Linked DNA regions of Homo sapiens. The protein of the gene in region 2 interacts with the protein of the main gene of each other region in a biochemical or structural test. Each region holds a gene or a part of one and is shown on either strand. Other genes may lie near its edges. The genes, in order: TJP1 and CGN.

Evidence for each region.
Region 1: the proteins of CGN (region 2) and TJP1 form a complex in vitro, tested with the Homo sapiens proteins (2 studies listed by BioGRID and IntAct, with this or other methods).

Annotation. Positions count from the first base shown.
Region 1 is NC_000015.10:29,812,469-29,819,468, forward strand, and holds part of TJP1 (tight junction protein 1), read right to left. Parts: intron 1-7,000. UniProt on the Homo sapiens protein: TJP1, TJP2, and TJP3 are closely related scaffolding proteins that link tight junction (TJ) transmembrane proteins such as claudins, junctional adhesion molecules, and occludin to the actin cytoskeleton.
Region 2 is NC_000001.11:151,504,808-151,521,419, reverse strand, and holds the start of CGN (cingulin), read right to left. Parts: upstream 10,034-16,612; 5' UTR 9,905-10,033; intron 2,915-9,904; 5' UTR 2,901-2,914; coding exon 2,028-2,900; intron 1,255-2,027; coding exon 1,154-1,254; intron 1,007-1,153; coding exon 937-1,006; intron 825-936; coding exon 729-824; intron 1-728. UniProt on the Homo sapiens protein: Probably plays a role in the formation and regulation of the tight junction (TJ) paracellular permeability barrier.

The DNA.
Region 1 (7,000 bases), on a different chromosome or scaffold from region 2:
CTGGGGCTGAGCAAGAGCTGCTTCCTTTAGACAAACTGGCTTGTGCTCTGATGGAGCAGTGCCCTCTCTTCTGGCTTTCATGATTCATGCTGCTTTTCTGGTCTAAGACTTACCTAACACCATCCCATACTCTTCTCCCTGGTGCTCTCTTACAACACACGAACATAAAAGGATGTGAATGTATGACTTATAGAACATGTAAGTAGATGTATGATTACCTATGGCAAGTAAATTTAACCTCAGATCCTTCACCTGTAAAAACAGAGATAATCGTAGTATCTAACAGAATTGTGAAGATTAAATGGGATAATGCACATAAAACACTTAGCTCAGTATCTGTCACAGAGTCAGCATGCAATATAAGGGGCTACTGTTTGTTTTGACACATATTTCTCACACTTATAACTAAAATGTAAGCCTACTTGCCATGGCTACTGACTTGATTTTTATAGGTGATACAGCATCAAAATAGTGTACTTCTGTATTAACACTCCAGTAAGTATTAATACTCCAATAACTGCCACTGTTAGAAAAAAAAAATCAGTAAATAAACCTTCCTTAGTACCTTTATATGACATTACCAGGAAAAACTTCCACAATTATATTTTGAAAGGCAGACTCATTTTTGCCAGATTCATGTATTTCCCCTGATTGTGGCTTTTGGTGGTCTGATCAGTCAGGTAAGTGGATATCTTACTACTAAAACATACTTCAATACTTACTACTAAAACATACTTTAGTATGACAAACATCTTAGTCATAAAATATCCTCCAAACTAAGACCAACTTGATTTTTCAAGATAATCATAGGAACACCAAAAGAAGCTTACTACCTTTTGCTCAGCTGTTGGTACTCCAATGACTGCCTCATAATGCATATCTAATTCTTGCCCCTCAGACAGACATATACAATATTTTTCTCCAAAAAGCCACAGAAGTCTAACTGAAACTATTTTCTCCCGAAACCAATAAAGTCCTCATACAATGGAATACCATGAAGTACAAGAACTGAATGAAAACTAATGAGCTACAGTTCTCCACAACATAATCTTACAAACATAATGCTGAGCAAAAGAAGCCATATACAACAGAATTCACACTAGAAGATTCTGTATGCGCAAAGTTCAGAGAGTCAAAACTAGTGCTTTCAGAATGCATAATTAGGTGGTAACTATAAAGAAAAACTAGAAAATGAGAAACCTAGAAGACAAGATACATGCAATCTTTGAAGAAGGGAGGATATGACCCAGAAAAGGCATGTTAGGGATTCTAGCACTTATCATTATGGACAGAATTTTATTTGCTGCTCTCTACCCGCACCATTAAAATGCCCTATCAGTACAGAGATGTGTTCACTGCTGCATCTCCAGCACCTACAACAGTGATTGGTACACACGAGGTAACCAACAAATATCTGCTGAATGTAAAATTCCGCTTTAGGAATCCAAATTGTTACATATTTCACAGCTTCTTGAACCCTAAATGTAACAGTAACAGCTAGTATAGTGTTCATTTGCCTTGTCAGTATATTCAAGGAGCTGTTAAGCATATAAGCCAATTACTTTATAATTCTTAATGTCTCCCTCCTATTGAGATATTGATACCAAACATATGCAGAAAACACTTACATCAATGTATCCAGATTCAATTCAAACATTTAAAAACATTAACAAGGAAAAATACAGAAACTCTGCTAAACAGCAAGCCCAGGTTTAGAAAATGACTTTGTCACCTCCTCCAACGAAGAAAGCACACAAGAATGCTCTGTTATTACAGGATGACCATAAGTTTGCTCGTATTTTTAAGAGTAAACAATGCAAATCCTTTGTTTCTTCAACAATGAGTTACACAATTCACAAAGTGATCATTACAGCGTATAGCAGTTGAAAACTGTAAATTTCTAGGATCGGGATCCCAAACAAAATGTACTCATTTAATATGTGTTAAGCTAACAAAAAGAATTAGTCATTACTGGTATCCTCCTGAATTTTAAAATTACATACTAAATTAAGTGAGCTAATCTTATATTAAGTTTAACTGGTGATATTCAGTTACCAGAAACTGTTGTACAATCTCCAAGATAATGACAATTCCAAAAGCGTGAAAATTCCTAAGATAACCAAGAAGAAAAATGAACTTTTCAGTCTTTGGGAATTTACATTTTTTTAAAAAGGAAAAAATATTTCGGTAAGTCAAAAAAAATTAATTAAACCAGGTATACGCTAATCTTATGTTCCTAATTAGAATCCACAGAAAGTAATATCAGCTTCTGTTTTACCTCCTTTCCGGACATGATAAACTAGAATTGAGATCATTCACCAGTTAACTCACTTCCCAGTATTTTCAGTATATCAACTGAAATATATCCGCAACACAAACTAATAAAACCTTATCTCTTGATCTATCCCAAAGTGAGGGCCACCTGAGATTCAGTATTGAGCACTACATATATGACAGGGTTTTGTTATCACATTTCAAATGGTGTTTTACAGTACAAAGTTTGGTAACATTGGTGTTCTCATGATCTAAAGCTGTGTTCTTGTGGTAAAGGCAATCATTCAGAGTCCATTTATTTTCATCCATGCTTAGGATATAAGATAAAACTCCCTACCCACGTATTCCCCACATACTGCTCATTATTAAGAATTTATCTGTTTAAGAGGAATGGAAATAAAGCACCTGGCTAGCCCATAAAGGAGCAACCTGAAGCCACTCTTCTCTGCAATAAATAAATAAAGATGCACTCTAGGTCAGAGAGAGCAAAAGTCTTATTTTTATTGCTGGCTTATGCAAGAAATACTGCAACACACCAATTTTATAGGATTAACTTTAAAATCTGTAAACTATCCTAATGTCTATTTCTTTCTACAAGACTAAAAGTTGTTAAAGTAAAAAGGTTTTTCAAGATTTGCTTTCAAAATTCAGAGGTGCAAAGCAAGTTCCAGTCAAATATTCCAGGAGGATCATTCTAGACATAAACTATCTTTTTATTTAACATATCAAAACTTTGCTAATTAGAAATGACTGGCTCATTCCACTAGCTTGTCTTCAGCTACTATAATGCTCAGTCATACACAATGCTGAGCACGTGAATGCTTTCAGGCAGGCCTGAAATGAGCAATGACTGAGCAGTCACAGATGGGTGGCACTACACATGAATTTACAGCTGGACTCATGGTCTTTCAGTAAGGTGAATTTTTATCATATCAGGGGTATGTCAAGTAACAGGATTACGTCTTCAAATTTTCCACCAAAACTATTATTTTTAAAGACATTTTCCTTAGCAGCATGGTGATCTATCATATTTATACACAGTTTTATTCTTAGAACTGTACAGAGTTTACATTTGGTCTCTAAACAGAAAAGAGATTAAAGAGCAAGTAAAAGTCAGAGCCAGACCTTGTTTCCAGGATTGGAGGGGAAAAAGGGAGTGGAACTACTGTACTTTTTTTCCTTCAAATCAAACGGGAAGCAGTACTACATATACTGCGTTACAGCCCTCGAAGCCACAGATTGGTTTCCACCTCATTATTTATTGGTGTCTTTCCTTTTTTTTTTTTGAGACAGACTCTCACTCTGTTGCCCAGGCAGGAGTGCAGTGGTGCTATCTCGACTCACTGCAACCTTGGCTCAACTGCAAACTCTGCTTCCTGGGTTCAAATGATTCTCCTGCCTCAGCCTCCCAAGTAGCTGGGATTTTAGGCATGTGCTACCACACCCGGCTAATTTTTGTATTTTTAGTAGAGACGGGGTTTCGGCCGTGTTGGTTGTGCTGGTCTTGAAGTCCCGCCCTCAGGTGATATGCCCGCCTCAGCCTCCCAAAGTGCAGGGATTACATGCTTGAGTCTGGCAAATTGGTGTCTTTCCTAATAATATAATGTAATTTGTGCCAATATATAACCTGGGGGGGAAGAACACCACAATTTGAAACATAACTATCTTATGAAGCTGTCCTGAAACAAATGTAAGAGTTGTAAAATGTAGTTAGGATTATCAGCCAACTATATAAATTAAAGCTTTAACCATGATGGTCTAAAATGCCAAACACACACAAAAATTATTGCTACAGTGAGGATCATTAAAAGTTGGCAGCCAAACTTCAGTGACTTCTCACAAACTACAGTGAGTTTTTCACTTTTAAAACAGTATGAAGCAAGTATGCATTGATCAGTAACTATCATAATTAAAACACTGCATCACTCACTCAAGAAACAATCCCTATATGTAATGACTGACTCTTGTCATTAATTTTTGTTCATTAGCTTGGCCATTTTCTGCAGCTCTTAAGGTTTCAAAAACGTTAAGATATCAAGAAAAGCCCACTGTATACACAAATTAACTCAAGATGGATTAAAGACTTCAATGTAAAACCCAAAACCATAAAAACCCTAAAAGAAAACCTAGGCAATACCATTCAGGACATAGGCATGGGCAAAGACTTCATGATGAAAACACCAAAAGCAATTGCAACAAAAGCTAAAATTGACAAATGGGATCTAATTAAACTAAAGAGCTTCTGCACAGCAAAAGAAACTATCAGAGTGAACAGGCAACCTACAGAATGGGAGAAAAACTTTTGCCATCTACTGATCTGACAAAGGTCTAATATCCAGAATCCACATGGAAGTGAAACTAATTTACAAGAAAACAAATATCCGTATCAAAAACTGGGCAAAGAATATGAACAGACACTTCTCAAAAGAAGACATTTATGCTGCCAAAAAAAAGGAGGTATTTATGCGGCCAACAAACATATGAAAAAATGCTCATCATCACCGATCATTAGAGAAATGCAAATCAAAACCACAATGAGATACCATCTTACACCCGTCAGAATGGTGATTATTAGAAAGTCAGGAAACAACAGATGCTGCCGAGGCTGTGGAGAAATAGGAACGCTTTTACACTGTTGGTGGGAATGTAAATTAGTTCAACCATTGTGGAAGATAGTATGGCAATTCCTCAAGGACCTAGAACCAGAAATACCATTTGACCCAGTAATCCCATTACTGGGTATATACTCAAAGGAATATAAATCATTCTCCTATAAAGACACATGCACACATATGTTTACTGCAGCACTATTTACAATAGCAAAGACATGGAACCAACCCAAATGCCCACCAATGACAGATTGGATAAAGAAAATGTGGTACATATATACACCATGGTATACTATGCAGCCATAAAAAAGAATGAGTTCATGTCCTTTGCAGGGACACGGACGAAGCTGGAAGCTATCATCCTCAGCAAACTAACACCAGAACAGAAAACCAAACACCACATGTTCTCACTCATAAGTGGGAGTTGAACAATGAGAACACATGGACACAGGGAGGGGAACATCACACACCAGGACCTGGGGCCTGTTACCCGGGTTGGTGGTGGGGGGAAAGGGAGGGAAAGCATTTAGGAAAAATACCTAATGCATGTGGGGCTTAAAACTTAGATGATGGGTTCATAGGTGCAGCAAACCACCATGGCACACGTATACCTATGTAACAAATGTGCACATTCTGCACATGGATCCCAGAACTTAATTAAAAAAAAAAAAGCCCACTGTGCTCCACTTGATACAATAAATCAATTCCTGGGTATCATGTAAATCAGTGTAACAGTAAAAAATGACATAAATCATTTTCATACTTACATTATAATTTCAGATAGCCACAGCGGGCAATACTACTATTCCCGAGACTTAACAAAAACATTTAAGTATTCAGCAAAATCTAATAAGCATATACAATAGCACAATCTTAAATTAAATTTTATTGCTTCCTCCAAAGGAAAACAGCTTGAAAACACAGAAGCCACTGAAACTTCCTTCAGCCACTTTTCTGTGATTCAACCAATGAAATCGTTTCTTAACAATGATTCATACCACTTTCTTACACATTTAAACAATTCTTTGGTGACGCAGAGAACCACCCTAATTCTTGTTTTTCAACTTTCTAATAATCTTAAATCAAATACACCAGTAAACAAAATTCTGACTGCGAACGCAGACGTTTATCACACATATAAAAAACGTTTTTTTCCTTTATTTATTTATTTGAGACAGCGTCTCGCTCTGTCGCCCAGGATGGAGTGCAGTGGTGCGATCTTGGCTCAATGCAACCTCTGACTCCCGGGTTCAAGCGTTTCTCCTGCCTCAGCCTTCCCATTAGGGGGGATTACAGGTGCTCGCCACCAGGCCCGGCTATTTTTTTTTTTTTTTTTTTGTATTTTTAGTAGAGACGGGGTTTCACCATGTTGGTCAGGCTGGTCTTGAACTCCTGACGTCGTGATCCGCCCCTCCTGGCCTCACAAAGTGCTGGGATTACACCGCGCCCGGCCACGTTTTTTCCTTCATTACTTTTTGTTTTTGAGACGGAAGCTCACTTTGTCGCCCAGGCTGTAGTGCAGTGGCCCCGATCTCAGCTCAATGCAACCTCCGCCTTCCAGGTTCAAGCAATTCTCCTTCCTTAGCTTCCCAAGTAGCTGGGATTATAGGCACGCGCCACCATGCCCGGCTAATTTTTGTATTTTTAGTAGAGACGGGGTTTCACCATGTTGGCCAGGCTGGCCTCGAACTCCTGACCTCAAGTGACCCACCCGCCTTTATTACTTCTTTAGTATCATGCACGGAGGATTCTTTTCAATCTAGGTACATACATATTTTTAAGTAGTATTCTACATTTTCTTCTATTTTAGAATTTTTATTGCTCTTTGTCATTTAGATTTCCTTTGATTTTTTTTAGCCTATGAGGCAGAAAACATTTTTAAAAAATGGATAACCAATAGTCCTAGCACCATACATTGAACAAGCCACTTTCTCCAATAGTCTACAATATTATTTTTTACCACATATTCGTAGTTTTCCACCTTGCTGGCTAAATGAACTTAAAAGTTATCGTATCTCTGTGTTTCAATTTCTTCACCAAAAAGTAGAGATAATAGTTCACTTCATAGGGTTACTGTGAGAATTAAATAAATTGAGCACTTAGAACAATACCTGACA
Region 2 (16,612 bases):
ACACAGCCAACAAGTAACAGAACCAGGATTTGAACCCAGTTAGTTTGGCTCCACAGCCAATCACTTAATCATTACACTACAGTGATTTCCAAAAGACAAGGGAAGTTACAATCCAACATTTATTGAGCACCAACTACACACAAACCAATATGATGAAAGGCAGAAGACATGTTTTTAAAAAGGGTACACTGGCTTTAGAATAAGACTGACCCGGATTTTTTCATTCCTCTCTGCAACTTACTACCATAGGCAATTTACTTAGCCTCTCTGATCTTCAGTTTTCTCATCAGAAAAGGGTCCAGAATAGGTATTCACAGGGTAACTATAATGATTACAGTACCCAGGACAGTACATACTACCAAAATTATACTCAATAAATGATAGCTACTACTATTGCCATTATTATGATAATGATAAAAAAAAATTGAGGCACAGAGAATGTAAGTAATTTTCTTAAGTTTTATATAGCTAGTAAGGGGCAGAGCCAGGATGGGAACTCCCAAAGGGAGTGGAATGGAAGGTAGGTAGATTCCTAATGTGCTCTGCCTCCCTAACCCCCACAGAACCCCAGAAGTCCTTCCTGGAATTAGTACACATTCTTGTCTCTTGTCTCATAAGACACAAACATGCTTGTTCCATTGCTTAGAAGGGTCAGCTCAGCCCATCTCCAGGCCAAGGCTTTTTCCCTGTTTTCCTTCATGCCTCCGGCACCTCTAACCTTTCCTTACCTTCACCTCTTCATCCAGCTTTCGCTGTAGCTCCTCCACTTTTCGGGTAAGCTCACCCTGCCCTGCCACGGCCTTAGTAGAACCAGAAGAAACCATCTGCCAGAGATATGGGGGGTGTGGGGGAAGGGAGTGAGTCCAAGTCTGGATCCCCTGAGGCCCTCAAAGCTCTAACCTTGACCCTTGCTCCCATCCAGAGAAGGCCACTCACCACTAGAGGCTGCATCTTCTCCAGCACCAAACTAACCTTCCTCCTCACAGAGGTTTCACTTTCTGAGCTTCTAGAGGATAAAAGGATAGAAGCAAGGGTTAGGGGAGGAAAGAGGTAGCAGAGATCAGGAAAGGGTAAAATCAGGGAAGATGGGAAACAAAGCTAGAAGAAAAAGAAGGAGGGGTATGCCTCTGTTGTTGGGGGGGCCCCCACTCACCCCTCCCTCAGGATGCCATAGATGGTGGCCTTCATATGGTCCACACTGCCTGGTGGGGCTGCCTCCTGCTGGTCTCGAAGGAGGTCTGGAGTTGATTTGAACTGTTAAAAAAAAAGAAAAAGAAAAAAAAAAGAAAGAAAGAAAGAAATAGGAAGATTAGGCCAGAAGCATGCGTGGGGTTCAGATGGAGGAGAAGTGGCAGTCTCAGGTCAAGTCCCTTCAAGCATGATGAACAATCCTGAAATGCAGCAAGGAAAACATGCTGTGGAGGCCTGAGCAACAGGCCAGGGAGAGGCCAACACAGGATGCACCTCTGCACTGTTGCTGTAAACCAGATTTTCCTCAACAAACATCTCAACCAGCTGCAAACTGTGCCACAAGTGATTTGTCACTAATGGTAGTTAACATGCTAGAGTTTATAAATAATTTACTTTTAAAACAGACTTACGTTTCTCTCAAAGTAAAGTCACTCCCTCACTTACTTACATTCCTGAGTAGGAGAGAAAGGTGTGGAATTTTGGCAAGAGCACCAAGGAAACTGCTCTTATCCTCCAAGCCCGCCTTACATATTCTGCAGACCTTGCAAATGCTGGTGACTGAGCCATAGTTAATGGTTGTGGCAATGACAACTAGGTCCAAACTTGTGAATAGTGATTTTATAGCTTGCTCCATTTTCTTTAGAATTTTACCCATGGAAATATCCTGTGCATGTGAATATCACCTATTTTGTGGACAGATACAGTAGAGAACAAAAGGCAGAGAGTTTCTGCCTAGGCTATTTGAATTAGCAAGGAGGCTCATGGCTGGTGGGTAAAAGCTGATGAGAAGGGAGAAGGGGCTGACATTTAGAAGTCAGGGAGGGGCTGGGTCTGACCTGCAGCATGGTGGGGTCCTGTGCACTCCTCCGCGGCTCCTCAAAACTCTGAAGGACCCAGTCCTGAGTCTGACGAGAACGGCTAAAGCCACTGAGAGGACTCAGGTTCTGGCTCTGGGCTGGCTGCTTCGAAGTGCCCACATGGTTGTCATATTTTGTGCTAGAGGTCCAGTGGTTGGTGGACTGGCGCTCCCGTTCCTCAAAGGTGTCCCGTGGGAGGCGGCTGTCCAGGCTCTTGCTCCGTTTGCGCTGTTCAGGGGGTAGCATCCGTGTTCGGCGGCCAGTCCGACCCCGGGCCTGGCCTCCAAGTTGACTGTCAAACTTGTTGATGAGTGAGTCCACTGAAGACAGGGGAGCAGTGTCAATGGTGCTACCTGGGGAAGCCACTTTCGGGGCTAGCTCCAGCATGCTGTTGCTTCTGTTACTAGGATCCACTGGGCCAGGGCCTGCCAGTGAGGCCTGGGAGTGGGAACGGAGTAGCTTTCCATTCCAGTAGGCCCCAGGCTCCTCATCAGATGTGCTGCTCTGCGAGGGGGCAGGAAATCCCTTGACCTGAGAGTAGGGGTTCTCAGGGAGTTCCAAATCTGAGCTCAGAGCTCCTGAGGCCCCTTGGTCATTGGCCCCCTTGATTTGGACCCCAAAGGAGTCACCGCCTTTCTCCCCACTGTTGAGCACCACAAAGGGCTGCCCAGCGATTCCCTGCACACGCACAGCAACCCCGTAGGTACTGGCTCTTGCATCCTTAGCTGGGCGTCGTCCACCTCGACGTAGAGTGCCCATCTCTGCACCACTCACTGGCTCTGTGATGAAGCGAATCTGGACTCCATGGTCTACGGGGCCCCGGGGCTCAGCCATGTTGGGTGCCTGCTCCATAAATAGGAGGAGTCCTAGAAGATGAAGAAATGAGTTTAGGCTGAGAGACTTCACTAGAAACTATGAAACTTCTACCTGCGGGCTGACTTCCCTGTCAGTTCCTACTAGATAAACCACTGATTCTCAGACTAACAGAAGGCCCCTGGAGAGCCTTTTAACATACCGGTTGCTGGACCTAACCTCCAGAGCTTCTGATTCAGTAGGTCTGGGTTAGGACTTGAGAATTTGCATTTCTAACCAAGTTCCCCAGGTGATACTGATGCTACTGGTCCAGGTACCACACTTTGAGACTCACTAACCTAAAAGAATCCACTTCCTCTGATACAGCCCTGGGGAGCTAGGCTTTGTTAAAAGTTTAAAGATTTTGCTTGATGGCCAGGAGCAGTGGCTCACACCTGTAATCCCACCACTTTGGAAGGCCAAGGCGGGTGGACTGCTTGAGCTCAGGAGTTCAAGACCAGTCCGGGCAACATGGTGAAACCCCATCTCTACAAAAAATACAAAAATAAACTGGGCCTGGTGGTGCACACCTGTAATCCCAGCTACTTGGGAGGCTGAGGTGGGAGGATCACTTGAGCTTGAGAGAGGCTGCAGTGAGCAGTGATTATGCCACTGTTCTCCAGCCTGGGTGACAGAGTGAGACCCTGTCTCAAAAAAAAAAAAAAAGATTTTACTTGATCTTCATACATACATATAATACCACCATGTGGCCAGGTACAGTGGCTCATGCCTATAATCCCAGCACTTTGGGAGGCTGAGGCAGGTGGATCACCTGAGGTCAGGAGTTCAAGACCAGCCTGACCAACACGGTGAAACCTTGTCTCTACTAATAATACAAAAACTTAGCTAGGCGTGGTGGCGCATGCCTGTAATCCCAGCTACTCAGGAGGCTGAAGCAGAAGAATTGCTTGAACCCGGGAGGTGGAGGTTGCAGTGAGCCGAGATTGCGCCACTGCACTCCAGCTTGGGTGACAAAAGCAAAACTCTATCTCCAAAAAAAAAAAAAAAAAACACTGTGTGCCTTCTTCCCTTCCTCCCACCAAGGGAAGGCAGAACCCACACCCTGCTGAGCAGATACCTCCATCTCACTGGAGAAAAGGGGGCCTTCTCTCCCAGAGCTCATTTAAAATATAGAAGACCTCAAAGTATATCATCCCACTTCTGGAAAGAAACTTAAAAACACTGATAGCAGTGATGCCTTTGAGGTGGAGGAACTGAGGACTAGGAACAGGGATGGGAGAGTTTCTATTCTCTGGAAGAGCAGAAAGGAGTGGACATTCTACTGTATATCTCTTATGTCCCTTTTGAATTTGGAACCACGTAGATGTATTATCTATTCAAGAAAAGGTTGTGTTTTTTTTGAGACAGAGTTTTGCTCTTGTTGCCCAGGCTGAAGTGCAATGGCGTGATCTTGGTTCACTGCAACCTCTGCCTCCCGAGTTTAAGCAATTCTCCTGCCTCAGCCTCCCGAGTAGCTGGGATTACAGGCACCTGCCACCATGCCCGGCTAATTTTTGTTTTTAGTAGAGATGGGGTTTCACCATATTGGCCAGGCTGGTCTCAAACTCCTGACCTCAGGTGATCTGCCCGCCTCAGCCTCCCAAAGTGCTGGGATTACAGGCATGAGCCACGCACCCAGCCAAAAATATTTAAATGTGGTTTAAAAACTGTGCCACTCGGCCGGGCATGGTGGCTCACGCCTGTAATCCCAGCATTTTCAGAGGCCAAGGCGTGTGGATCACCTGAGGTCAGGAGTTTGAGACCAGCCTGACCAACATGGTGAAACCCTGTCTCTACTAAAAATACAAAATCAGCCGGGCGTGGTAGCGGGGGCCTGTAATCCCAGCTGCTCGGGAGGCTGAGGCAGGAGAATCGCTTGAACCTGGGAGACGGAGGTTACAGTGACCCAAGATCACGCCATTGCACTCCAGCCTGGGCAACAAGAGTGAAACTCTATCTCAAAAAAAAAAAAAAAAAGTGCCACTTTAAGGGGCCCCAGGTCAGGTAAACTTGTCTCAGCTGAGAGCCAGAGCCAACACCATCCATAGGCCAGCTTCCCAGGTCCACATTGCTAAAGCTCAGAGTCAGCAAATGGAATGTATTCCAGGTATGCTCTGGCTCCAGGAACTTGGGGGAGAGATTGTCTTCCAAGCAAATAAAAAAATTCAGCTTCCCCACCCCTTCTGCTAGTCTCCACCAGAGCCTAGCACCAAACTGGAGGATGAGCCTCTAACGTGCCAGACAGAAACACAAACATACCCAACTCAACCTCCCCATGGAGTTCTGGGCCAAGGAAACTTGGCAAGGCCCCTTTCAGGGACTGTAAAGTGCTAGCAAGCCAGGGTGAGATGAGAAGGGAGGGGAAGGGATGGGAGAGGCAGAGCTACAGGTGACAAAGGGCTTGGTGGGGAAGGTCTATCTGAAGAAGAGCATTCTTAGAATTCCCAGCAATTCTCAAGAGAAAGGAACAGGGAGAGAAGAGCCCTTTATTAGGAATTGTTCTTCATCTTTTTGGCCCTGGGACTCCATGAGAAAATGATGAAAGCAATACACTCTCCCTGAGGAGACAGCACATCCAAACTTTTATCACCCCATCTTAAAAGGCTTGTGAAGGCAGACAGGTAAAGTAGTTCTCCAAACCACTCATCCAGTAGAAGAAAATGCACTGGGCTAGAGTCAGGATCTGGTCTGGAATCCTGTCTCTGCTCTTCACCTGATGTATGCAACCTGAGGCAAATCACAACTTTTCTGGTGTGGTGGCTCACGCCTGTAATCCCAGCATTTTGGGAGGCCAAGGTGTGTGGATCACTTGAACTCGGGAGTTTGAGACCAGCCTGAGCAATATGGCAAAACCCCATCTCTACAAAAAATACAAAAAACTAGCCGAGTATGGTGGTACACACCTGTAGTCCCAGCGACTTAGGAGGCTGAGGCAGGAGGATCACCTGAGCCCAGGAGGTTGAAGCTGCAGTGAGCTGTAATTGCACCACTGCACTCCAGCTTGGGCAATAGAGTAAGACTCTGTCTCAAAAACAACAACGACAACAAAAAACCCACAACTTTTCTGTGCCTCAGTTTCCTCATCTGTAAAATGGGTATAATGATAATACCCCACAAGGTTATTATCTGTGAGAATGAGATAATAAATAATTATATGGGCATATACAATGATAAAAAAGTACCAAGTTATACCCTTAAGATCTTTGTACTTTATTTAGGCCAGGCGCAGTGGCTCATGCCTGTAATCCCAACACTTTGGGAGGCTGAGATAGGCAGATCACCTGAAGTCAGAAGTTCAATAACAGCCCGGCCAACATGGTGAAACCCCACGTCTACTAAAAATACAAAAATTAGCTGTGCGTGGTGGTGCACGCCTGGAATCCCAGCTACTGGGGAGGCCGAGGCAGGAGAATTGCTTAAACCTGAGAGGCACAGGCTGCAGTGAGCCGAGATCCGCCAGCCTGGGTCACAGAGCAGGACTCCATCTCAAAAAAAAAAAAAAAGATGTTTGTACTTTATTGAACTTGGGTTCTAATTTAATAAAAAGGAGAGAAAAACAAGATATTAAACATGAAAACATTTAGCATGTGACTATCACAAAGCTGACAACAAATATCATCCTTCACACATGCTACTTTGTCCAACAGGCACTTTTGGCTTCACCTGGTTCATAGAAAGATGTCACTTCTTCAGAGAAGCCTTCCCTGACCACCACTCCCACAAACAAGGTCAGTTCTCACAAATCAGCCTCCCACAAACCAGGTCAGATCCACGTTATACGCTCTATAGTTGTCCTTCAGCAGGTTTACTCCAGTTTATATTTATACATTTATTGGAGTAATTATTTCCTGTCTGTCTCCCCTACGAGATAATAAGCTCCTGGAGGGCAAAGACCATGGCTAGCAGCTAACCACTGTGTCCCCAGGTGTTTGGACACGTGGTAGATGTCAACAAATATTTGTTAAAGGCTGTATCCTGAACTAAAGCCCACTTGCACAGCAGTGGGGAGATTTGCCCAGGACAAATCTACTTTGCCTCAGTAACAGGACCTCTTAGCAACAGGACCTCCTCCTGGTCCAGACTTGCTGCCCTATGTAGTCATGATCTTAGAACCAGAAGTGCCTAGATTGCCAGCTCTCAGAAGCCATATGATTTATTCATGATGCAGTCTACCCTGTCAGTACATCTACTGATCTTCCAGATCCAGGTCAAGGAGTTCCCAGCCTAGGCCCAGCAGAGGGCACAGACCCTTGAGCAACAGCACTAAATTATTCAGAGGCAGTGTTGAACACTCCCCCAGGTCCCAGGTTAGGTTAACTCCCTAACCTCAATCACCTTCAGTCCAAGGACATGTGGATCAGGGGCCAGGAGGGCTGAAGGGATCTTTGGGGTGGGTCAGAAAGCAGGGCTCTAAATGATTCAACATGGAAAACCCGAAACCTACCCGCCTTTGGTTACAGAGGACAGTGGGGCGGGACCAAGGCAGCAGGGCAGCTCTGAGGCCTTGCGTAAGCCCCAGAGACAGGCAGGTAAACAGTGATCAAGGGCCAGGCAACATGGAGTCCAGGGCCTGCGCCCTCACCAATGCCTGACCCTACTTTTCTCTCCCCTATCACATGTCCAGGGCTCTCCTCACCAACTGTACTCCAGGAAGAGACCAGACCACAAGTTGATTCAGGTGCATCTGTCTGCTTCTGCCTTTCCTGCCTGCAAGGAGTGGGAGAACACTCTACACCTGTACCAGACAGCCACTTCTCCCTGAGTTACTCATTAGCCTGCCCTGCCCCAATTCCATCACCTCTGGCCCAGCCATATGCATCTGGTTTCCAACTAGGAGTGACAGGGTATCTGGACTTCTGGCAGGAAGTGGGGGTGGGGTGGTTTCGGGTGTGTGGAGGAAGGACTGATTCACATAGGGCCAGGCAATATGCTTGATGCTAAATAATTGGCAGATTTAGAAAACGGGAGAACTTGAGGTATAGAGATTAGAATCCCCTCAGAGGAAACAAGGAAAGCAAATGGTCGAAATAGAAAAGGACAGCTCAGTGACCTTGATGATTTGGCACCCTTTTTCTCATAGTTAGAGATAAGAAGGTTCCCCGTGGATCCAAAAAGAATCCCCCAAGTGGACTCCTGCCCAGGTCCGCTGAAAGAGCAGAAACCTGAGAGCCAGGCTACAGCTGCTTGGCCAGTAGGGAAAAAAACACAATGAGGAACTGGGCCCCTGCAAACTGGCTGGACTGGTTTGAGAGGCAAGGGGAAGGGGAGGGCCGGGGAAACTACACTGGCAGCTTGTAAAGCAGACCAGAGAAATTCCACACCACGGAGGAGGCAGAGGGGCAAGACCACAGGCAGGGGCTCTCCAGCCTTGATGGCAAAGCCAAAGCTCTGAAGGAGAGGACAGAGGGCAGGGAGGGAACAGGCAGGAGGAGCAGATGAACAGGAACCTGGTGACAGGCCAGTATGTGACAGGGAGACTTTGTCTCCCTCCACCCCTCCCTTTGAGGTTCCCAAAGTTGCATTCCTGATCCCACACTTGCTTTGGCCACCTCCCTGGTCCTCAGTCCGCCCCTCCCTGGCACAAAGAGAAGAGCCCTACACCCCCATCACCTCCCACAAGGGGAATGGCATGCAGGCCAGCCTGGGAAACACAGGAAGGGTTCTAGGAAGCCAGAATCCTCTTAGAGTCGGGCAAATCTCTGGATTAGCAGTCCCCCAGAGCCAGCCCCCAGACTCCCAAACATCCAGGATGAAAGAAGAGATGCATAGGCATGTGTAGGCAGCCCATCTACAAACATAGCGGTTGCTAATTATTTCCCAATTACAACAACCTTCCTCAGGCAGGGCTTCAAAGGGGCCAAGCTAAGGTTGACTCTAGTTCCTTTACCTGCCTAAGGCAAAGAAATTTGCCTCCAGTCTTGTCTGGGCCCCAAGGTGCACCTTTCATCTGTCCTGGGGATTTGGAGTTGTAATTTCCCTAGTCTCGTGGTCTCCTGATGAGTCCTGCCTATTTCCTGCCCCAATAGTGCCTGCTGCCATTCTGACAGCCACCGCAGTTCAGGAGTCAGGGATGCCTGGAGGGCGTTCAGGGAGTAATGGGGATTCCTCCAGACATCAAGGAAATTGGTTGGGCTCCCAAACCTCATCCAATGGTCCCCATCTAGAACCACAGAAAAAATATGTGGGTACTTGGAGAAAGGGTTTGACATCCGCCCCCAGAAAGGGGCCTCCTGAGAAATAAGTATTAATATTTATCAATATTTTGCAGGACCAGGCAGGGCTCTTTGCTTCCTCATATCCCTCTCTTGGGGAGTACTCTCTCTCTCTCTCAAGAGGAAGAAGGAACGATTCTCCCTGGCACGAAAGCAAAGGACACAAAGTGAAAGCCTAATGGTTGTACACCTGGTGAAGAGATGAGGGTGCCCTCTCATCTGCCCCTCAGTGTCTCTGATTCGCAACTGCCTTCGGCCGGAGGTGAAGGGCTGGGGAAAAAATCCCACACCTCAGAGTCATCTCAAAGCCACCAGGGTGCTGACAACGGCCAGCTGAGACCGCAGGACGCAGGAAAGACCCTCAGGCGAGCAGCACCTGCAGATGCCCTCCCCTGGCGAGTCTGCACCTCAGGCAGCAGCAGTTCCCGACTCAGCTGGAACTAACTCCTTCCCCGCGCCACCGCTGTCTCCAAGAGAAATTCTGCCCCTAGGGCTGGCGTCTGACCTCCAGAGACATCTGGCGCTGAAACGCTTTCATGCGCTGGGAACAGCCTTCGCCCCAGGTGCCCCTCGCCTGGCACCTTCCTAGCCACCTGCATCTGGCACCTCAGGGTAGGGGTCGGCTCTTAATCAGTACCCCACCCCGCCCCAATCTCCCCTCCTCCCGTCTCCCACTCGGCACCGGTGCCCTGGAGAGGGGCATCTCACACCGCCTCGATGCCTGCCCCTCAAAGGTACCCCTGAAGGCTCGCTTTCCTCTCGGGTGCCCTGGCCCGCACCGGGTCCACTCACCCTAGCCGGGCTCCGCGCTCCCAGGCTTGCGTTCGGGCTCGGGCTCGGGCTCGGGCTCGGGCTCGGGCTCGGGCTCGGGCAAAGCAGCACGCGCAGCTCCGGCCCTCCCCCTCGTCCTCGGAGCTCCCTCCTTTCTCTCCCTCCCACCAACCTGTTACTCCGCTGCGGAGCTCCACCCCCGCGGGCCGTCAGTGCCCGCCCCGCCTTTCCCCGCTCCGGTTGGTCCGCTTCCCGTAGGGGGCGGGGCCTCCGGTGCGGGGACCGGGACCCGGGGTCTCCAGCCGCGAAGGGCGGGCCAGGTCACGTGGACCCACGGGCTGCGGAGCGTCGGGGCGGGGCGGCGAGGGGCGCGGAGGCCATTTTGGGGGCGTCGCGGATGGTCGCGAGTGACCGCCGGCCAAGATCCCGGGAGCCGTCGGCCAGAGCATCTTCTGGGCTCTGCTAGAAAACAGCCTCCTGCCTCCCGTTTACTCCAAGGGAATCGCCGGCCAGGGCCCTTTCTGTCCTTCACCTACCTCTGCAGGAACCAGAATGCTCTTTCGTCACTTTCTGCAGAAAATATCTCCGTTGTCCCCCGACGTCAGAGCCTCCTGCACCTCAGCTCGTCTCCCTTTTCCCTGACCCGAACCAGAACCCTGATCTTGGATTCTCTTTTATCTTGTGGCCTCCGCAATCATTTTGCAGCCTGACATCTTTTTCTATGTAATATTTATCACCTTCTAGTTAATAACATAATTTTAAAAATCATTTTCATCATTTTGCCTCCCGTCCTACGATAAGCTTCACCAGAGCAAGGATCTCTTGTTCTGTGCCTTGCTTCACCCCAAACGCCTACAACAGGGACTGGTACATACTACATGCTTAATAAATATTTGTTGACTGAATGAATGGAAACCGGGGACGCAAATTTACCAAAATAGGAATGACCTTCGTTCTAAACTGAAAGGGACTCAGTTGTAAATTTACCTCAGAGTTAGCCTCTCAAAAAGTAGGGATGCTGATCCCAGTTCCTAGAAAAGAGTAAAAACTAGGGGCTCTGCAAACTGCAGGACCGCTCATACCAGCTGCAGTTAAAACAACATTAAAGCTGGCATCCTAGCTGTTAACCGTTGAGATATGTAAAAAAGAGATTGACTTCGTTTACGTTGCTGGGCTCCGGATTTTGTTCTCATTTAGTTACAACAAATATTTACCCTGTATCTATTGGAGTAGAAGAGGAATCTTCGATGCAGCACAGATTCCGGTGTATTCTCGGGAGCTGGTTTCCGCCCCTCCCCAAGCCTTCAAAAGCTAGGTGTGGGTCCTACAGAGTAAAGTCCACTTACCAGCTCCTCAGCTGGGATGCAAAGTCTCTGCATTCCAGAGCAAGCTGTATATAAGGATTAGGGCCATCAAACCGGCCTGTTCCCTGGGGAGGAACAGCAAAAAACATGTAGTGGGGGTGGGGACAGAAGAGGAAATGTCCTTCCAGGAGCGCACCTCCTGAACACTGGGTGGCTTTTAAAAGACTTTTTTTTAAAAAATTTTTTCTTATTTTTCTTTTATTGTGCAGCCTCCTGAACCAGAATAGGTTCAGAGACACTCCCATGGGATGGTTTTTGGTTTGGGTTTTTTTTGTTGTTTTTTTTTTTTAAGACGGAGTCTTGCTCTATCGCCCAGGCTAAAGTCCAGTGGCGCAATCTCGGCTCACTGCAACCTCCGCCTCCCAGATTCAATTGATTTCCGGCTAATATTTTGTATTTTTTAATAAAGACAGGGTTTCACCAGGCTGGTCTTGAACTCCTGTCCTTAAGTGATCTGCCCACCTTGGCCTCCCAAAGGGCTAGGATTACAGGCGTGAGCCACCACACCCAGCCTGTTTTGGGTTTTTTTGTTTTTGTTTTTGCTTTAGTTTTGTTTTTTTCATTGAGACGGAGTCTCACTCTGTCACCCGGGCTGGAGTGCAGTGGTGCAATCTCTGCTTACTGCAGCCTCAGCCTCCAAAGCTCAAGCGATCCTCCCACCTCAGCCTCCTGAGTGGCTGGAACTTCAGGCGCCCACCACCACACCGGGCTAATTTTGGCATTTTTAGTAGAGATGGGGTTTCCATGTTGTCCAGGCTGGTCTTGAACTCCTGAACTCAAGCGAACCGCCTGCCTCGACCTCTCAAAGTACTGGGACTACAGGAGTGAGCCACCACGCTCGCCCCCACCAAGTGTTTGTAAGGAGATTTTTTTTTTTAATGTGGGATATTAAATTGACTCAGATATTGGAAAGGCGGAAGCGCCTAAACTCCCCTAGATAACACCTTAGCAATTAGGATACTTAGTATATTTGTAGTAAATACCAATTTGGGTGGTTACCCAGCACCATGAACACGAATTACAAGGATAAGTGGGAGCCTCTGAGTCACCGCCTTCGTCATCTGTTCTTCAAGGAAGCACTCAGTCTGAGAGGTACATCCAGGCACAAGTGACAAAGGCGACACCCTGGTCTTTTTCCAGAGTTCAGAAGACAGGTGATCCCTCTCCTTAAGAAATGCTACAGGGCCAGGCGTGATGACTCATGCCTCTAATCCCAGCACTTTGGGAGGCCAAAACAGGAGGATAGCTTGAGCCCTGGAGTTGGATCGCTTGAACCCAGGAATTCAAGACCAGCCTGGGCAACACAGTGAGACCCCATCTTTATAAAAAATAATAATAATAAAATTTTTTCAAAAAAGAAATGGCAAAATTGGCCAGTTTATAAATACAGCAAAAACAGAATTTATAGCAAATATAATACCCAGAAAGAAGAAATAACACTGATAGATGTTAAAGAGAGAAGTTTTATTTTATGAAATGGGATAATAGAGAAAGTTTTAGGTAAATTGCAGGTTTCATCAAAGAAGTGGATTTGCCATCCTCGCTAACATGGTGAAACCCCGTCTCTACTAAAAATACAAAAAATTAGCTGGGTGTGGTGGTGGGCGCCTGTAGTCCCAGCTACTTGGGAGGCTGAGGCAGGAGAATGGCCTGAACCCAGGAGGCGGAGCTTGCAGTGAGCTGAGATCTAGCCACAGCACTCCAGCCTGGGCGACAGAGCGAGACTCCATCTCAAAAAAAAAAAAAAAAAAAAGTGGATTTGGAACCAAATTCCTCTCCTGCAATTCTTTCCTGAATTCTCCAAGATTCACTGATACCACTAGCAACTCTACTGAATTGTTCTCTCAAAGATCACCCGTTTAAGGCCGGGCACGGTGGCTCATGCCTGTAATCCCAGCATTTTGGGAGGCCAAGACAGGCGGATCACGTGAGGTCAGGAGTTCGAGACCAGCCTGGCCAACATGGTGAAACCCTGTCTCTACTAAAAATACAAAAATTAGCCGGGCATGGTGGTACATGCTTGTAATCCCAGCTACTCGGGAGGCTGAGGCAGGAGAATCGCTTGAACCCAGGAGGCTGAGGTTTCAATGAGCCGAGATTGTGCCATTGCACTCCAGCCTGGGCAACAAGAGTGAAACTCTGTCTCGAAATAATAATAATAATAATAATAATGGAAATGAGGTGATGCCACTAGCTGAAATGGAAAGGACAAGAGACAGGAAGGATTTGAGGAGGACCTAGAAGAAGAGTATGATAAATTAACTCTGGAACCTGATATTTTAAAGAAGCATGTGATGCCGGGCGCGGTGGCTCACGCCTGTAATCCCAGCACTTTGGGAGGCTGAGGCGGGCGGATCAACAGAGGTCAGGAGTTCAAGACCAGCCTGACCAACATGGAGAAACCCTGTCTCTACTAAAAATACAAAAATTAGCCGGGCGTGGTGGCACACGCCTATAATCCCAGCTACTCGGGAGGCTGAGGCAGGAGAATCACTTGAACCCGGAAGGCAGGGATTGCGGTGAACAGAGATCACGCCACTGTGCTCCAGCCTGGTCAACCAGAGCAAAACTCCGTCTCAAAAAAAATTTTAAAAAAGCATGTGGTAAATCCACACACACATACAAATGTCTAGCAAACAACTGGAAATGAAGCCTAGAAAAGAAATCAGGGCTAGAGACAGAGCTAAGAATCATCCTCATAGATGAAAGTTTGCTAAGAGGACTACAGAACAAACTGTGAGAAATAAAGGACAGATGAGGAGTAAAAACGGGATCATTGTGGGGTTATTGAGAAAGGTAAGTAAAGAAGTTCATGCAAGAGAGGTATTCAAGTAGGAGAAGAGACTGGAATTTGGCATTTCGAAGTTATGGGTGATCTTCCAGACGTCAGTTTCAGCAGTGTGATAGGCTTTCAACTCAGAATGCAATATAAGAAGTGTATCAATAAAAAGGAAAGAGAGAGGGTACCTTGACTTAAAGGAAAACAGGGTAAAAGAAAGGGCAACTTCTATGTTTGGTTTTGGGGTTTTGTGGGGAGACTGGTGGGGGGGTGTTTGGTTTTTTTTGAGACAGGGTCTCACTGTCACGCAGGCTGGAGTGTAGTGGTGCAGTCACGGCTCACTGCAGCCTCAACTCCTTGGGCTCAAGCGATCCTCCCACCTCAGCCTCCTGAGTAGTTGGGACTACAGGTGCACATCACCACACCCAGCTAATTTTTGTATTTTTTGTAGAGAAGGGGTTTTGCCATATTGTCCAGGCTGGTCTTGAACTCCTGAGCTCAAGTGATCCACCCGCCTCGGCCTCCAAAGTGTTGGGATTACAGGCATTTGCCACTGTGCCCAGCTGGTTTCATTTTTAAGAGGGAGAGACTGGCTGGGCGCAGTGGCTGACACCTGTAATCCCAGCATTTTGGAAGGCCAAGACGGGCAGATCACGTGAGGTCAGGAGTTCAAGACCAGTCTGGCCAACATGGTAAAACCCCGCCTCTACTAAAAATACAAAAATTAGCTGAGTGTGGTGGCACATACCTGTAATCCTAGCTGCTTGGGAGGCTGAGGTAGGATAATTGCTTGAACCTGGAAGGCGGAAGTTTCAGCGAACCGAGATTGTGCCATTGCACTCCAGCCTGGGCAACAAGAGCGAAACTCCATCTCAAAAAAAAGAAAGGAGAAGAAGAAGAGACTTGGTTATGTTTTAATAAGAAGCTAGAAAAGGAGACAAGATTCAAGAACTAAGATGAGATGGGAGAAAGAGGAAAAGAGAAAAAGAGAACAGCCAAATAGTCAAAACTTGGAACTTAGAGGAGAAGGTGAAGTCTCTGTTCTGGAACTTAAATTGGAAGAACAGATGTGAAAGAGTGAGGAGTTGAGAAAGTTGAGGCAGGTAACTAGTTCACCAGATTACTGGACCTGCCAAAGAGAAGTGATTCTCAGGGCTGGAGAATTTGTTAAAAGGTTTTGGAACTGCTGGTATTATCTACAAGCCTAAGGAAGAATATGATAAATGCCAAATCAATGGCACAAATGAAGTGTTACTGGAAAGCTTCCCTTTCAACTAGAATAGAGTGATTTATAATCTGGGCCTTGAAAAAACAGGCAGGGGAAAGGAAGGAAGAAAGACAGCAAGAAAACGTGCAAAGGCCCTAGGGGCAGAAAAGCATCATGTCAGTTTAGCGAACTGGAAGGTTAGCCTGTAGAGCAAAGGGACAGAGAATAGTGGTAAATAAGATGATAGGTAAATTCTGGGGTAGATTGTATAAAGCCTAGAATATCAGAATAAGAAATGTGGGCTTTCGGCTGGGCTCGGTGGCTCACACCTGTAATCCTAGCACTTTGGGAAGCTGAGGCAGGTGGATCACCTGAGATCAGGAGTTCAAGACCAGTCTGGCCAACATGGTGAAACTCTGTCTCTACAAAAATACAAAAAAATTAGCCAGGCATGATGGCGGGTGCCTGTAATCCCAGCTACTCAGGAGGCTGAAGCAGGAGAATCGCTTGAACCCGGGAGGCAGAGGTTGCTGTGAGCTGACATCGCTCCATTGCACCATTGCACTCCAGCCTGGGTGACAAAGAGAAAAGAAAAGAAATGTGGGCTTTCACAGTATTCTAGCCTGAGCAACAGAGCTACACTATGTTTCTTTAAGAAAAAAAAAAAAGAAAGAAGTAAAAAGAAATGTGGGCTTTATTGGTAGGTAATGGAGAGCTATTAAATGTTCTTGAGCAGGAAAGAGGCAGTACTTCAGAAAGTCTCTATGATAAATGCAATGGTAAGGCTTGATTGAGGTAAACCCTAAAAACCACAGTGGTGGCCGGGCGCAGTGGTTCACATCTGTAACCCCAGCCCTTTGGGAGGCTGAGGCAGGCAGATTACCTGAGGTCAGGAGTTCAACAACATGGTGGCCTGGCCAACATGGTGAAACCCCGTCTCTACTAAAAATACAAAAAATAGCTGGGCATGGTGGTGGGCGCCTGTAATCCCAGCTACTCGGGAGGCTGAGGCAGGAGAATCGTTTGAACCCAGGAGGCGGAGGTTGCAGTGAGCCAAGGTCGTGCCATTGCACTCCAGCCTGGGCAACAGGGCAAGACTCTGTCTCAAAAAAAAAAAAAAAAACCACAGTGGTGGCAAAAGGAGGGAAAAGCAAGGACCACTCACCCTGATGCTCTTTTAGCGTATTACTCATCATTTCTCTCTTGAGCTTTGTTTACAAATACTTTGCTCTTCAACAGCAATAATAATATGTAATTATACTAACACTTGGGGCTTTTCCTGGCTAAGTACAATTTCTATTCTGGTTAGGGAAGATAAGAAATGGTCACTGCATATACTCACTTTATATACATGTCCAATCTTTGAGTACAGGACTTCC